2 linked regions of the Homo sapiens genome follow. The protein of the gene in region 1 purifies or fractionates together with the protein of each later gene. This does not show direct contact. Each region holds a gene or a part of one and is shown on either strand. Other genes may lie near its edges.

Region 1 (3,500 bases):
GTGAGCTCAGCACTTCTCTCTGTAGCCTGCCATGCTGCTGAGAACTGATACTGCAGCCTGGGACAAGCTAATGTGTCCTGCCTGCTGGTGTGACCTTGGCATGTCTCCCAGGGTACCTCAGCATTCTTCTCTGCACAGTGCGCCAGGCCACAGAAGAGGTGAAGAATGCTCACTTCCGGGGGTGACCTGGCCATGAAGGGATGTTTCTTAAAGAATGAAGGTGTGGTGGCACAGTGTGTGGTCCAGCTGCTCCTTGCCCCTGTTAAATGCAGAATCAATAGGGATGGCTCCAATGGGAATAAGAGGGATCGGGGGCAGAGTTGAGGAAATGGTAGTTCTTTTTGGTCAGAGCTGGAGCTTGGGTGTCACTGCCAAGCTGGCTGCCCCAGAGTTTCCTGCAGCTGAAAAAACAGTGGTCAGACCCAGTTCCTAGGTGAGGCCCAGGCTGGTCAGAGGTGGGAAGATGCTGGGTGTGGCTGATTGCTGGGGGCACAACCACAGGCCATCCCATCCCTATAATTTACTCCTGCAACCAGGACAACCTCAGCAGTGTCACTGGAGATGAGACACCTCCCCAGAGGCAGTGGCTGCAGTCAGTTTCTTTTTTGGGGAAAATTTTCCCGGTCAGCCCTTCTGCTGAAAGTCCCAGGCTGTGCTCTGTGAAGGTTCCCCTGTCCCAGAGTTGCTGGGGAGGAAGAGCCGATCTTCACCCCCCGGAGAGCTAGCATCCTCATGGGTGAAACCAGGCCAGAGTGGGCCATGGAATAGAGTCCAGCTTGGTAGGCAGGAGTGCAGGCTCTGGTTCAGGGTCTGCTACTGACCTGCTTCCGTGTGCCCTTGGGCTGCCCCTCCCTTGGCCTCTGTTTTCCCATCTGTGAAATGGGACGGAGTAGATGTTGAGATTCCTTTCCTCCTCTAGTCTAGTGCTCACTAAGGGGCTGGGGATGGGCCAGGAGAGGTTGGAGAGGGATTCCTGAAGGAGGAGAAGGGGTTCTGAGCATTGTGATTCCTGGGAACCTGGACTCCAAGGGGGGTGCTTGAAGGCCCTGCTGCCTGCTGAAAGGCCCGGGGTTGGGGGGCGCTGCTTGCTTTGGCTTAGGGCAGCAGAGAACCTCCCAGAGCATGGCCAAGGAGCCCTGGTCCTCCTGCCTTAGCCCAGCCCTCAAAAGTGTGTGCCAGAGGAGGGGGTCTGTTCCCCCAAGAGGTCCCTAAATCCTTCCCCACTCTGAGATCACACATACTGTGAAGGAAGGAGAGGCTGCCACACTAGGGGAGGGGCCGTGCTGTGGGTGAGGACAGCTGGTTGCTGGAGCCCACCGGAGGATCTCTTACTTCTCCTGTCCTTGACTCTCTGAGTCTGGGTACCACCCCAGCCCAGAGCTTGTCTGACGCCCTGCCAGGACCCTGAGCACCAAGCACTGGTTCCAGTGTGCCATGTGGAGGGGACCCAGAGTCTTCTCTCTCGGGACCTGGCTTCAATGTTTCTACTAATTGTCTCCTCCTCAGGCCATGTAGGGCAGGACCGGGTGGACTTTGGCCAGACTGAGCCGCACACGGTGCTTTTCCACGAGCCAGGCAGCTCCTCTGTGTGGGTGGGAGGACGTGGCAAGGTCTACCTCTTTGACTTCCCCGAGGGCAAGAACGCATCTGTGCGCACGGTGAGCCTCTCTCTTCCCCCAACACCCCCCCTACCCTCTTATCTCCCCTCTGGCCCTGCCAAGGGTCCTCAGGGAATCCGAGGGAGCTGGCTTCTCTTCCTAAACTGCCCCCACCTCCGTATCCTATAAATGGCTCCTGGGGGAGGCTCCCTAAAGGTAGTCCAGATTGGAGTGGGGAGCTGGGGCGGTGTGGAGAAAAACAGGAGCTAATGGGCCTGGCCAGCTGGGCAGCGCTGCTGCGGAAAGCCCAGGCTGGAAGCTGGGCCCCAGAGCCCATGCCTGGTCTTCTGAACCCTCTGGGCCTCAGCTCTGGATATGAGACCCTGTTTGACCTCAGGTAGATCACTCACCCTCTCAGAGCCCCAGTTGCTCATCTGTCAGATGAGAATAATGGTTGCTTCCTTTGGGGCTTATCCTGAGGCTGTGTGGAAAGCATTTCAGGGGTACCTCACCCCTGGCAGATTGAACTAATGCTTCTCCCCTTCCCCCAGGTGAATATCGGCTCCACAAAGGGGTCCTGTCTGGATAAGCGGGTGAGTGGGGGAGGGGGTATGGAGGGGTCTGAGCCACTTGGTAAAGGGAGAGGAGACCCTGAGGGTCTAAGGAAGGAAGCATGGCCCTGCCCCACGAGTCCCAGACTGATGGGGAGACGTGGTCCTCTGTGCTTAGGGGATGGCGTCAGCTGCACACACTCTGGGCTGTCCCGGGAGGCTGTCACCTATGCTAAGCCCTTCTGACACCTTCTTCCCTGATCCTGGGGGTCCTAGTGCTAGGCTTGCCAGGGCCTTCCAGCAACCAATTTCTCTCCTCCCTTCTCTCTTCCCCGGGCAGGACTGCGAGAACTACATCACTCTCCTGGAGAGGCGGAGTGAGGGGCTGCTGGCCTGTGGCACCAACGCCCGGCACCCCAGCTGCTGGAACCTGGTGAGAAGGCTGCTCCCCATGTGCCTGATCAGCTCACCTTCTACTGCGTGGGCTTCTGCCCCTCATGGTGGGAAGGAGATGGCGAGACTCCAATGCTGGCCTTGCCCTGGGAGGATGGGGCTCCTGGCCGAGAAACTGGCCGTCATGGGAGGCAGTGGCTGTGGGATTATGTGGCCATCCAACCCTCTGGATCTCCCACAGGTGAATGGCACTGTGGTGCCACTTGGCGAGATGAGAGGCTACGCCCCCTTCAGCCCGGACGAGAACTCCCTGGTTCTGTTTGAAGGTAGGGCAGTGCTGGAGCAGGCGCCCCAGGGGGATGCTTCTGAACTGGGCTGGGAGAGGAGTGGTCAGCTCTTTGTCCAGTGTCCGGAGGAGGGACTTCCAGGAGCTGCCTGCCCTTACTCATTTCTCCCTCCCACTGACCCCAGGGGACGAGGTGTATTCCACCATCCGGAAGCAGGAATACAATGGGAAGATCCCTCGGTTCCGCCGCATCCGGGGCGAGAGTGAGCTGTACACCAGTGATACTGTCATGCAGAGTGAGTCAGGCTCCGGCTGGGCTGAGGGTGGGCAAGGGGGTGTGAGCACTTAAGGTGGCAGATGGGATCCTGATGTTTCTGGGAGGGCTCCCTGAGGGCCGCTGGGGCCATGCAGGAAAGCAGGACCTTGGTATAGGCCTGAGAAGTTAGGGTTGGCTGGGAGCAGAGGAACAGACAAGGTATAGCAGTGGGATGGGCCCAGCCCTCTTCAGGAACACAAACAGAGGGAGCCCCAGACCCAGTGCAGGGTCCCCAGGAGCCAAAGTTTATCCTCTGCTGAGTTCACGTGGAGGCAGCCCCCAACTCCCTCCTCATCAGGGCTCTGCCAATTGAGCAGAAGTGACATAGGGGCCCCCAGGGACCTTCCCCCAGTCCC
Region 2 (4,015 bases), on another chromosome or scaffold:
ACACAGGGCCTGGATCTATAAATAACTGCCAAAAAAAATGAAGAGCAAAGGTTATACATTTCCTTTGTAAAAAGAACTGAGCTTCAAATATTCATGCTCCAAATTATTTTTAAATAGTCACTGTAAGTGTCATTTCACTTTGTCTAGCAGACATAGCAATTAGCAGAGTGCCTGAGCAGCTATAAATGTTCTCATTTAGTCTGGTTTTTGTTCAGGATAATGAATATAAATGCTTGTTTTGACTAAATGAATGGTTCTCCTAGGCCAGTGCTGAATAAATGCTTGTGCTATTGTGACGCTTCTGACCCAGGCAGGAGACATGTGCTTCCATCTCCAGAACAGCAACCCCTGAATGACCCCTCGATACAATGGAGAAAAGAAGTGCTGTGTAATTTAGGGGCATAAACCAAACCTCCACTGCTTAGAGTCAGCTTAATGTCTGACAGAAATATACAAAACTGTAAAGCCTCAACCAGACATCTGAATAATCTGTCCATACATTTTTCACATATCAGTATTTATTATCTTTTCAAAGGAACAGGTCAAGATGAGAATAAAGTTTATGATCAAAGGTAGTCAAACATTTATTTTATATAAATATAATTTCCTTGCCTATATCCATTAGATTTGGGGAAAAAAGGTTCAAGTTTACAGTGCCAGAACAGCTCCTTCTTTAAAGGCTTGTAAACAGTGACTTGTTCTATGCCAGCATGCACACTTTGAGCATATCAACTCACTTAATCCTTACCAACAATTCTATGAAGATTGTGCTATCATTCCCATTTCACAGATAAAAACTAATGTATCTAGATATGATAATCTTGCTCAGGATCATGCACTGGGATTTGAACCTAAGTGATCTATTCTCTGATGCCGTACTATCAATGCAGTACAATTTTTAACTGCATGAATGCACACTGCAGAGCAACAGCAATTGAACAATGATCATTTGCCTTTTGGAAATTATGGCCACATACTTTGTGTAGCTTGATTTACAAATAGCTTGGCTAAAAAGCAGTTCAGCAAATCAACTTCTTAAAATAGGCTATGAAGGAAAAGTGCATGATGAAGCCAGCAGTAAACAAAGAAATTACACAATTTGGTGAGAGAGGGTTTGGAGGTGGAGGGGAGTTGTTAAAGGCCTGGAATCATTGAAAAGTTTGGGGATGACAGTGACTTGGTACAACTGAGAGAACTGCCCCTCAAAAGATTAGAAGGACAATTGATTGGCAAGAGACACTTGACAGAGCCAGTATTGAGTTCCATTTATTTTGGAGCAGTATGCATCTGCTGGGTTTGGGTACTCTGGAAAAATCCAAAACATAATATAATGGAAAAAGCATGGGTAAAAATCACTTATTAGCAAGTTGTTTAATCTTTGAGCCTCTTCGTTCATCTATAAATTTAGAATATGAATATCAACTTTGAAGTGTTGCTGTGAAAATTAAATAAAACCATATATGGCGGAATAGGTGCCCAAAATTGGTTAATCATGAAAAATTTACCATCATCAAGATGTAAAATAATTAGCTGTTGTTGTTGGGGCAGGGCTTGGAGTTGGGGGTTGGATATTAAGATTCCAAACCTGTATAATCTTTTATCTGGAAAACCTACCAGATAAAACAAAGAGATTACCACCCCCATGTTTTTAGGGAGAGAGACAGAAAGTATGACACACAAAAGAATTAATTTGTTCAACTTTGATGGAAGGTAAACCCCTTTAGTTCTCACTTTGTTTTTAAGACTAGGAAAAGATTCAAACTTCTTAATTATGGATTATCCACCATGTTCTTTCCTTCCTCGGAATCTTTGAGATCCAAGAACGTCTGTTCTTTAAGATGTAACAAAAAACACCTGAAGAAATTTGAAAATGACAGAATGTTAAATCATAATAGATAGCAGAATTATGGTTTTGTAAGAAAATACCTGATTTTTAGGAGATGCATGCTGATATATTTAGTGGTGAAGTTCAATGATGTTTGCAACTTCACATGGTTCAAAAAATTTTATAAATATATAATTATACATATACATAAAGCAAATATGGCAAATTGTTGTTGAATTTAGATGATGGCAATATGAGTAGTGTTTAAAATAGTTAGGTCAGGCGGGGTGCAGTGGCTCACGCCTGGAATCCCAACACTTTGGGAAGCCAATGAGGGAAGATCACTTAAGTGATCTCCCTCTTGCAACATAGCAAGACCTCGTCTCTACAAAAAATAAAGATTAGCCAGGCATGGTGGCAAATACCTGTGGTCCCAGCTACTTGGGAGGCTGAGGAGGAAGGATCACTTGAGCCTGGGAGTTCGGCTGCAGTGAGCCATGTTTATACTACTGCACTCCAGCCTGGGTGACAAAGCAACATCTTGTCTCAGAAAAATAAAAAAATAAAATAGTTGGAGCTGTTTGTTTTAGAGGCAAGGTGTTGCTCTGTCACCCAGGCTGGAGTGCAGTGGCACAATCATAGTTCACTATAACCTCCTCGAATTCCTGGGCTCAAGTGGTCCTCCCACTTCAGCTTCCCAAGTAGCACTTTTTTTTTTGTACAGATGGGGGTCTCACTATGTTGTCCAGGCTGGTCTCAAACTCCTGTCCTCAAGTGATCCTCCTGCCTCAGCTTCCCAAAGCATTGGGATTATAGGCATGAACCACCATGCCCAGCTCTTAAAATCGTTTATAATAAAACATGAGGGGTGGGGGGAACCAAGAGGTTGCATTTAGGGACAATCCTAGGTATAATTTTTCCATCTTTTTCCTTTTCCATTCATAGTACAGATGGTTAGGGGAGAGGGTGGTAATGCAGAAAACAACTGATATTAGAGAAGTAACAGTAAATTCAGCCACAAGTCAACTGAAAGACAAGTTCTACACAACTTCTGAAACATCTTGTAAGAGTCCAGATGGTGAGAAGTCAGTAACTAAAATCAGTGGTTTTAGGAATTCTTTTGCCAGGAAGGAACAAAGCACTGGGTGGGAGTATTAGCCTTTCCAATGGGCCTATCAAGAGAATTTATCCAGGAATATTTAGGAACCACATTCTAAAGACGTTACAAAGGCAATTACAGAAGAAAATGTCATGTAGTTCCCTCTGTTCAGAACACACACAATCTTGAGAATCATCCCTCTTTATCTAATAATTAATGCTTACCTGCAAATGAACATATCAATCTTAAGAGGTGGTATAAGAAAAAAAGAATTATATAGGAAATAAGCCAAAGTCTTATAAAATTTGAAGGTGTTATTAAAGGATTAAAAAGGAAACAAAAGGATTGTGATAAGAAGCAAAAAAAAAACATTTTTTTTACATAACCAGAAAACAAATTAAAAAATTAAAATCCCCCAAGAAACCAAATTAACTCATTTTTTTAGTTAACTTACTAAATGTTTTGGAACATACAAAGTGCAAAATATCTTTTGCATCCCTTTAAGAAACACCTGCCTTTCTTTGGTAAAGAATTTCTTGCAGGAAAGATTCCAAAGTTTGAAGTTCCCTCCAACGATCCCAGCAGAAATGTTTCTAACTTCTAAGAATGTCCTAAGAGAATGAGCTAAAACACAGAAAATGTTGAAAGTCTTATTTAGAATATTAAAAACTGGAAGCAATCTAAAGGTCTAACAGTGGAAGAATGATGTATTTATAATGTGAATATACATGTGATGTCCAACAATTTCAATTCTAAGTATGAAGAGTAAGCCACAATAAAGAATGTTAAAAAACAATAATTAGTAAGTAAATATAATTATAAAACCAAGTCAGAAATACAAAAAAAGGGACAACTATACTGGAATGATGAAATTCGATTTCTGTTTCCTGCCTCCTCCCTTGCTGGCTCTATAATTTTTTTTTTTAATTCTTAGAATAGGAAAAAAAGGTAAGAATGCTATGGCTGGAAGGCCACTAGTAAACAAGCACATATAAAGGGTCCTCAAGACAAGACCTAATATGGGTATGAAACTAAATGTTATAAGGAAGGTCATTGTCCTCAGCAACTGACTCTGCTATTTTTACCCCAAA

What was found. Proteins that work in one complex are often made in the same cells at the same time.
Region 2: the proteins of SEMA7A (region 1) and PIGM purify together in Homo sapiens (affinity purification with mass spectrometry; one large-scale study listed by BioGRID and IntAct). This does not show direct contact.

The regions. Positions count from the first base shown.
Region 1 is NC_000015.10:74,416,959-74,420,458, reverse strand, and holds part of SEMA7A (semaphorin-7A isoform 1 preproprotein), read left to right. Parts: exon of another isoform or gene 1-165; coding exon of another isoform or gene 166-220; intron 221-1,506; coding exon 1,507-1,658; intron 1,659-2,149; coding exon 2,150-2,191; intron 2,192-2,489; coding exon 2,490-2,582; intron 2,583-2,783; coding exon 2,784-2,868; intron 2,869-3,013; coding exon 3,014-3,124; intron 3,125-3,500. UniProt on the Homo sapiens protein: Plays an important role in integrin-mediated signaling and functions both in regulating cell migration and immune responses.
Region 2 is NC_000001.11:160,024,453-160,028,467, forward strand, and holds the end of PIGM (GPI alpha-1,4-mannosyltransferase I, catalytic subunit), read right to left. Parts: 3' UTR 501-4,015; downstream 1-500.